Linked DNA regions of Homo sapiens. The protein of the gene in region 1 purifies or fractionates together with the protein of each later gene. This does not show direct contact. Each region holds a gene or a part of one and is shown on either strand. Other genes may lie near its edges.

Region 1 (3,825 bases):
TTTCTTCTGCAACACATATAGCAGTTACTGTGTCCCAGGCACAGTTCTAACAGCAACCAGAGAGGCAGCAGAGCATAGTTTTACGAATTCAGCCCCTGGGGTCAGGCTGAATGTGAATACAGGCTCAGCGCTTCATGTCTTCTCAGTCATTTACTCCTCCGAGCAATCCCAAGGTGCTAGAGTTCTCATTGGACAGACGAGCAAACTGACACGCAGAGAGGTCCGTTAATGTGCATGAGGCTAGTTTGGTGCCTGGGTGGCCTGACCCTGGCCCTCTGTATCCGGAGTCCCCTCAGTCTGGTGCTGCCTCTTTCTGGCCTCCACACATCCACTACGAGTTTGCTTAAAAACTTCTGGCCTGTCTTTGAGGAGCGATAAGTTTGAACATGTTGCTATTAATTTTTGCATGAATTCAACAAGTGTGTTATTAGCCTTCAGGAATGCAACAGGACGGAAATAGTCCCTGCCCCAAAGCACCTGTTCCTTCCAGATGCAAAGCAGGAGTCAAGTCGGGACTGGAGGATGTTAGGTTGTGACTAATGAAAAGGCTGCCCCTGGCCTTTAAAAAGTTGAGGTGGAATTCACATGCCACGAAATTCACCATTTTAGAGGGTACAAGCCAGTGGGTTTTAGTCTATTCACAAAGTTGTGCAACCATCACACCTATCTCATTCCTGAATATTTTTTCTCTCCCCAAGAGGATACCCTCTATCCACTAAGCAGTCACTTCCCATTTCCGCCTCACCCCAATAACCCCTAATTAGATCCTGAGTGACCCCTGGGTAACCACCAATCTACTTTCTGTCTCTGTGATTTGCCTGCTTTGGCCATTTCATAGACATGGAATCATACACTCTGTGGTCTTTCCTGTCTGGTGTAACTCACGTGGCATCGTGTTTTCCAAGCTCACCCTTGTTGCTGCCTAAGTTGGCACTTCCTTGTCACGGCTGAGTGGCACTCCTTTGTATGGATTGGCACATCACGTCTACTCATTCATCAGCTGATGATCAGGTCCTGGCCTTTCAAACTGTTTCTGCGAAGTCATCCTGTTAAAAAATATTTTGATATGGTCAGACCTTTGGTCATAGACTTACTAAGGATTCCAACCTATTCTGCCTGAATGATTTTATGACAAAATCCTTCTGCATCATTTAAGCAACACTTCCACTGCAATATTGGGTGGTTGTCAAATTGTCCCATTTCTGGAAACGACTCTGTCTCAAGACCTTAAGTTGGCTGAAGGGTTCTCACTCACCACACTCAGGTGTAGCCATACAGGCTCCTAACCAGAGTCTATATGTATTCTTTGGAACATTCTGTCTCTTCTTTCTCTCTCTCTTTCTCTTTTTTTTTTTTTTTTTTTTTGAGACAGAGTCTCACTCTGTTACCTAGGCTGGAGTGCAATGCGGTCATCTCGGCTCACTGCAACCTCCGCACCCCGGGTTCAAGCGATTCTTCCGCTTCAGCTTCCCAAGTAGCTGGGATTACAGGTGCTCACTCTACCCCCACGCCCAGTCAATTTTTGTGTTTTTAGTAGAGACAGGCTTTCACCATGTTGGCCAGCAGGCGGGTCTCGAACTCTTGATCACATGATCCCCCCTCCTCAGCCTCCTAAAATGCTGGGATTCCAGGCATGAGCCACCAGCATGAGCCACCGTGCCTGGTCTCTCTCTCTCTCTCTTTTTTTTTTTTTTTTTTTTTTTTACTATTATTGTTTTTATTATTTAATAGCTGGGCTCATAGTACCATTTCCTACTTATTTTTTTCCCTCTCTGAATTGTTGAGTCTGGCTCTGCTGCCATTTGATGTAATTCCTGGAGACTTAGCTTCATTTCAGGCTTTTGCTAACATGTGTCTTCTTTTTTTTTTTTCCACTGTTTTAAGGTCATTTATTAGAACACAGTCATTCAGAAGCCACTGAGACATCAGGCAGCAGGAAGGAAGGTGGGGTGGAGCAGGCCCTGTGAAGGACCAAGGACAAAGTAATAGCCTCAGTTATGAAATTTCATTTTATTCTGATAAAGACTAATGTATGCCTGATAACCTAGTGATAATCCACAAGTTTGGTAGTTCACAACATTTTTAGAAAGCACGTACGATTAACATTTAAATAAGGCATTATAGAAAGTTTTATAAAGAATGAAGTGTGTACTATAATTCTTTTAAGAAACTTTGGTTCATCTTGAAAGATCAATGAATTTTTAAAATATCAGAAGAAAAGGAAAATAAATTTTTTTCCCCAAAAATACATAAGAACTGCTTACTGGCACTTGTATTTTAAGTACCTGGGGAAAAAATGGAAAAGATTTTTAAAGGCAATTAATAACAGCTTGTACGAGGGCTTGTTTCATTTGTTCTGGCACCAAGTAAAGAGTAAATACGCCATGGAAGACGCCATCAGGTTTTCCGTCCACCTCTCCTACTGCCCCACTTCTCCCAGACCACACAGCACATCAGCAGCCATCCTTGCTGCCCCACTCAGGAATCACTTTAGATTCCAATTTTCTTTGTTTGTTTGTTTTTGTTTTTTGTTTTTTTTTTTTGAGACAGAGTCTCGCTCTGCCCCCCAGGCTGGAGTGCGGTGGCACGATCTAGGCTCACTGCAACATCCACCTTCCGGGTTCAAGTGATTCCCCTGCCTCAGCCTCCTGATTAGCTGGGGCTACAGGCGCGCCATCCAGCCCGAGTAATTTTTTGTATTTTAGTAGAGACGGGGTTTCACCATGTTGGCCAGGATAGTCTCGATCTCCTGACCTCATGATCCACCCGCCTCGGCCTCCCAGAGTGCTGGGATTATAGGCGTGAGCCACCACGCCCGGCCTAGATTCCAGTTTTTAAATGGCTTCTCAGATGACACCAACAGAGTTCTTTCCCTTTAAAATAAGGTGGCAGTGAATGCTAACAGGTATCGATTTCTTGGATCAGGAACAAAGAACTCCTTCAGGAAACTCACTTACTGGTCCTGGTTAACCTATTGTGTAAAGTCTTTTTATTGGCACACCTGTTTACTAATTATGATTGATTGCTATTTATGCCAAGGGAGCGTTTCCCAGGCATATCTCATCTATTTACTAACGACAAAGTGTGCTTACTTTATTTACATAGTGCCACAGGTTTTCTCTTTTCTCTCTTTTTTTTTTTTGGCAGGGAGTGGCACTATAACTTGTTATTTATCAGGGCGGATCATACATTTGGATCAAAAAGAGGAACCGGCAAGTAGATCCTAAAACACATTTCTCAACCTGAGTCACATCTGAAAACATATAGATTTTAATTACATTTTGTTGAAAATTCATTCAACTTCGGTGCTTGTCCAAGAACTTATAATGTTAATTTCTGACATAAATCATAACCCTCAGTACATATGTATTTTCAAAGGAAACAAGTCATCTTAAAGTAATATTTTTCTATATGCGAATGGATACATTGTTGTAGCAAATTGAAAATTCTGAGTAAACTGAAAGTATGCTTAACAACAAAATAAATACAGCATATATGGTTAGCATACACATTTCTTAGTAGCAGAGGATTTGTGTCTTACAACAAATCTGTAAACCCACTTGCTTTCTTTCTGGTATTTTATATAGTGTCTCCCCATGTTCCACAACGCTGGAGATGTCTTTTGTGGCATCGATCTGTGCAAACATTTCTGATCACATATTTTCCCCCAATGACATGTAACTTTTTTTTAACTTTTCCGGGAAAATACGGAAGCTTTATCAACCACTTATTAACTGAACAAAAACTTAGATTACTACCAAATGCTCTTTTAATTTTGCTCCAACAGATGTTTTAAAAGTTCAGACATCACTGATGTTTTTGAGG
Region 2 (3,825 bases), on another chromosome or scaffold:
AATTAGGAACTTATACCAATTTTTCTAACCCTGGGGAGAAAACAATAAGAAAAAAACCCAACCTATATTTCCAACTGGTTTTTTAAAAGTCCAACAAATTCAAAGTCAACTTTTTGGTGACATTTTATATAGAATCAGAGCTTAAATGTAGTAACTTTCAGATTTCTTCCTTTTACAATTAAGTTGTGATATCGGACTTGCGACGTGACCAACTTAAAAATGCCTAATGATGTTTTGGGATCAGTTTATTTGCTGCACTATTTAAGGTCTTTGCCTGTTTCACCAAATCCTTTTCACTAAATAAAATAAAAATGACAATGAAGTGAAAGGAGAATGAGAAAATGGATAAACAGGAAACACAAAAATAGCAAGAGAATAAGTCAGCTTAATACTCAAAGAGATAAGTCATTATTCTCTTTCTGTTTGCTTTAAATTCCAAGTCAAAACATCATTGAAAAGAAATTTGATACATTTCATTTCAAAAGCACAATTTATGAACAGTAAAATCATTTTGTTAAATCATAAACATATAACTGTTTATGAGCAAGTACCTAACCATCTTTCCTAGGTAGACTGATACATTTGTATTTGGCTATGTAAGAGGTTTCAGGTTTATTTATAAATTTGCCATTAAGTTTTGAGTTAACATTAATATGCACTGCTGTTCAGGACCCTTACTGGTTAAGAATCATCTGAATATAAGAAATCACCCATTAATCCATTCATTCATATATCTACTGAATGAATGCTTGTATATTCAAGGCACTGCGACAGATCTAATACGGGAACTTAAAAGATTCGTTAACTAATCTCAGGGAGCTTACACTCGCATCGGAGGAGACATATATAAAGAGTTAAAAGGTACAGTAGACAGTGAGAAGTGCCATAAGCAGTATAGATAGATATGAGTATGAAGCTATGGGAGTTCCCAGAAAGACAGATCATTTCTAGCTGCAAAGAGGTATCAGAGGAAACTCTGGGGAGGTGGCATTTGAGCCTAAACTTAAAAATGTATCTGACGAATAAGGGAGTGGGAAGAATTAGGACATTTCTAATTGGTGGAACTATTGGGAAAGAAATAAATGGGAAAAATGGGAAGTACAGGGACCAGCAGTTTAGTTTTGCTCAAGTGCAAGAAGGGTGACAAACAGGTGTTAAGGGTAGAAACATCAAATGACCTTGGGTACCACGTCACATTCATCCTTGAAGACTCAGCCATTTCTCTTGGCTGCTAAGTTGCCAGAGAGAAAATGGTGGTTTCACATAAGCACAGAAAGAGAGTAGCATAGGAAGAAGATGTGCTTTGGGCAGACTGAATTGTAGATACTGGTGGAAGATAGCTGCCCAAAGGATGAAAACTCAAGACTGGTCTCCAGATGAAGGTAAGAGCTGGGAAAACACACTGGAGGTGACAGTGGAAGCTACAGAACTACCCAGGAGAAAGAAAAGGGAGATAAGAGAAAAGGGTTAAAGAAGGGAGAGAAAGATCCAGAATAGATCCTTGGAGGACACCTATCTCTCAGTGCCTCTATATCCCCTAGCATCCAAGTATTCAAAGACTTCAGTGATGAACAATAAAATCACAGAATTACATACATACATTTAAGAGTCCTTCCATGCTTTTAAGTATCCTTCCTCTAACACATGACTCTGACATGGATTAAGAGTTCTGATGTTCAAAACAGTCATAAAAGGCTGACCTTTCTTTTTTTTTTTTAAAGGCTAGTCAAGTGATTGACATTTCCTAAAAACATTTCAGTCATACCTTAGAAAACACACATAACATTCAACTGGCTTTTTTCTACCAGAATGTCTGATGCTAATTTGGAAGAATTTCATGTATTTTCTATTTGCCGAATGTACAGCACATTCTTTTCACTTCAGCACTGACAATCCAAAGTGTTTCATTAAAGAAACAGGACTTTTACCTTTGTTCAAGTTGTTTAATGGTAGCAGCCATCTGATTAGTCTTCTCTTCCAAGCGACTGTTTAGTTCACTTTTCTGTTTTACTCCTAAGTCTGAACTCTGTTATGGAAAATAACGATAAACAACCTGTATAACATAAATCCTAAAATACAACCACACATGCCTTTTGAATCTAATGGTAAGTGGGAAAACAGAAATGTTCATATATTTCAATATCAGTTAATCCTGAAATGGAAAAAAAAGCAATTTATCTAAAGTTAGTATTGTTATATGCAGTGTGATCACAGTAATAGTTCATCAATGTATCACATTCCAGTGTAAAAGCTAATAGAATATATAACTTAGCTGGCACGGTAGACTGCAGAGTAGAAATTACCCTATAGGATAAAAAAGACCCTCATCCTCTACTATAATGTGAAAAGTGGCCATGGTTTTCTAGAACAGCAATACAGGATCCCATGGTTGTCTGATTCTGAAAGTAGTTTACTGGCAGCTAGCATCAAAATGAGATGTGATTCTTTCCTCTTGTAATTAAAGTGTGATTCTGGAGGATCAGATGGGAGGAGGGAAGCCCCAGGATTTTAGAGAGCCAGTGAGTCTATTCCTCATATTTCCCCTACCTGCAGCTTAAAGGCAAGTTCATGCTTGAGAGCTCTGAGGTCATCCAGCTGCTGCCGAAGAGATACCAGGGCATCCTGCTTCTCACAGACATCCTTCTCCAGCATCTTCATAGCCAATTCCATCTCCTGCCTCATGCTGATCTGCATCTCCAGTTCTTTCTCAACATCCTGCCCCCAAAGGTAAGTAAATTGCTTACACTCTGTTCCTTCAACTAAGTACAAACCATAATATTTCACAGGAAAAAGTACACCAAAACTCTCAGGTCTGAATATTCTGGCAAAATAGCTTAAGCTACCATTCATTTTCAGAGACATTAACAATAATTAATTAATAATTAACAATAATAATTAGGATATACAATAACATTTGCCCAATAATGTACAAATCTGAAAAACCTGCTAAGCCAAAGATAGTGTTATTTAATACATCTAAAATATATACATATTTGAGACACTTCAGTAGATATTACGACAACTGATGGTCATATCTTATTATAGAAATATACCTACAGGGTTACAGCAGTCAGCACAAAATGAAGCAGTTGCAGTCCTCCTAAATGTGAATGTTGTTGATATATTCAAGAGCCCAGGGAACCCAGAGGACCATCTGGGTCCCTGGGGTAACATCGCAATTACTGAGGATGATGACTAGTATGGTTACGAGGCGAACAGATTTTTTTTTTTTTTTTGAGACAGAGTCTCGCTCTGTCGCTCAGGCTGGAGTGCAGGGGCTCAGTCTTGGCTCACTGCAACCTCCACCTCCCGGGTTCAAGCGATTCTCCTGCCTCAGCCTCCTGAGTAGCTGGGACTACGGGTGCATGCCACCATGCCTGGCTAATTTTTTGTATGTTTAGTAGAGACGGGGTTTCACCATGTTGACCAGGCTGGTGTGAATTCCTGACCTCGTGATCTGCCCGCCTCAGCCTCCCAAAGTGCTGGGATTACAGGTGTGAGCCACCACACTCGGCCGCTAACAGAATTTTTAGTTCACTTAACATGAAACCTCTTTTTGTTTCAACCATTATTACTGCAACATTATGTGGGTGATCGAAGATACAAAGACCTGAGGATCTTCTGCATCTGCCTTGTGCCTTGGGCTCACCTAGGACCTCAAATACTTTCTTAGTTTCTTTCCTTCTTAACAAACATTTGTCTTACTGTGATAAAAGGATATGAAAAATTTTAAGATTTTTATTATGTGCCACTTCACTGAGATTCTCATTTTACTTGATTAGCATTATAGAAAACGAATCATACCCCTTCTTAAAATGCTGACAT

The links.
Region 2: the proteins of GLT1D1 (region 1) and RUFY3 purify together in Homo sapiens (affinity purification with mass spectrometry; 2 studies listed by BioGRID and IntAct, with this or other methods). This does not show direct contact.

The regions. Positions count from the first base shown.
Region 1 is NC_000012.12:128,940,226-128,944,050, forward strand, and holds part of GLT1D1 (glycosyltransferase 1 domain-containing protein 1 isoform 2 precursor), read left to right. Parts: intron 1-3,825.
Region 2 is NC_000004.12:70,787,696-70,791,520, reverse strand, and holds part of RUFY3 (protein RUFY3), read right to left. Parts: intron 2,716-3,825; coding exon 2,548-2,715; intron 2,027-2,547; coding exon 1,929-2,026; coding exon of another isoform or gene 1,925-1,928; exon of another isoform or gene 1,624-1,924; intron 297-1,623; coding exon of another isoform or gene 224-296; exon of another isoform or gene 1-223. UniProt on the Homo sapiens protein: ARL8 effector that promotes the coupling of endolysosomes to dynein-dynactin for retrograde transport along microtubules. Acts by binding both GTP-bound ARL8 and dynein-dynactin.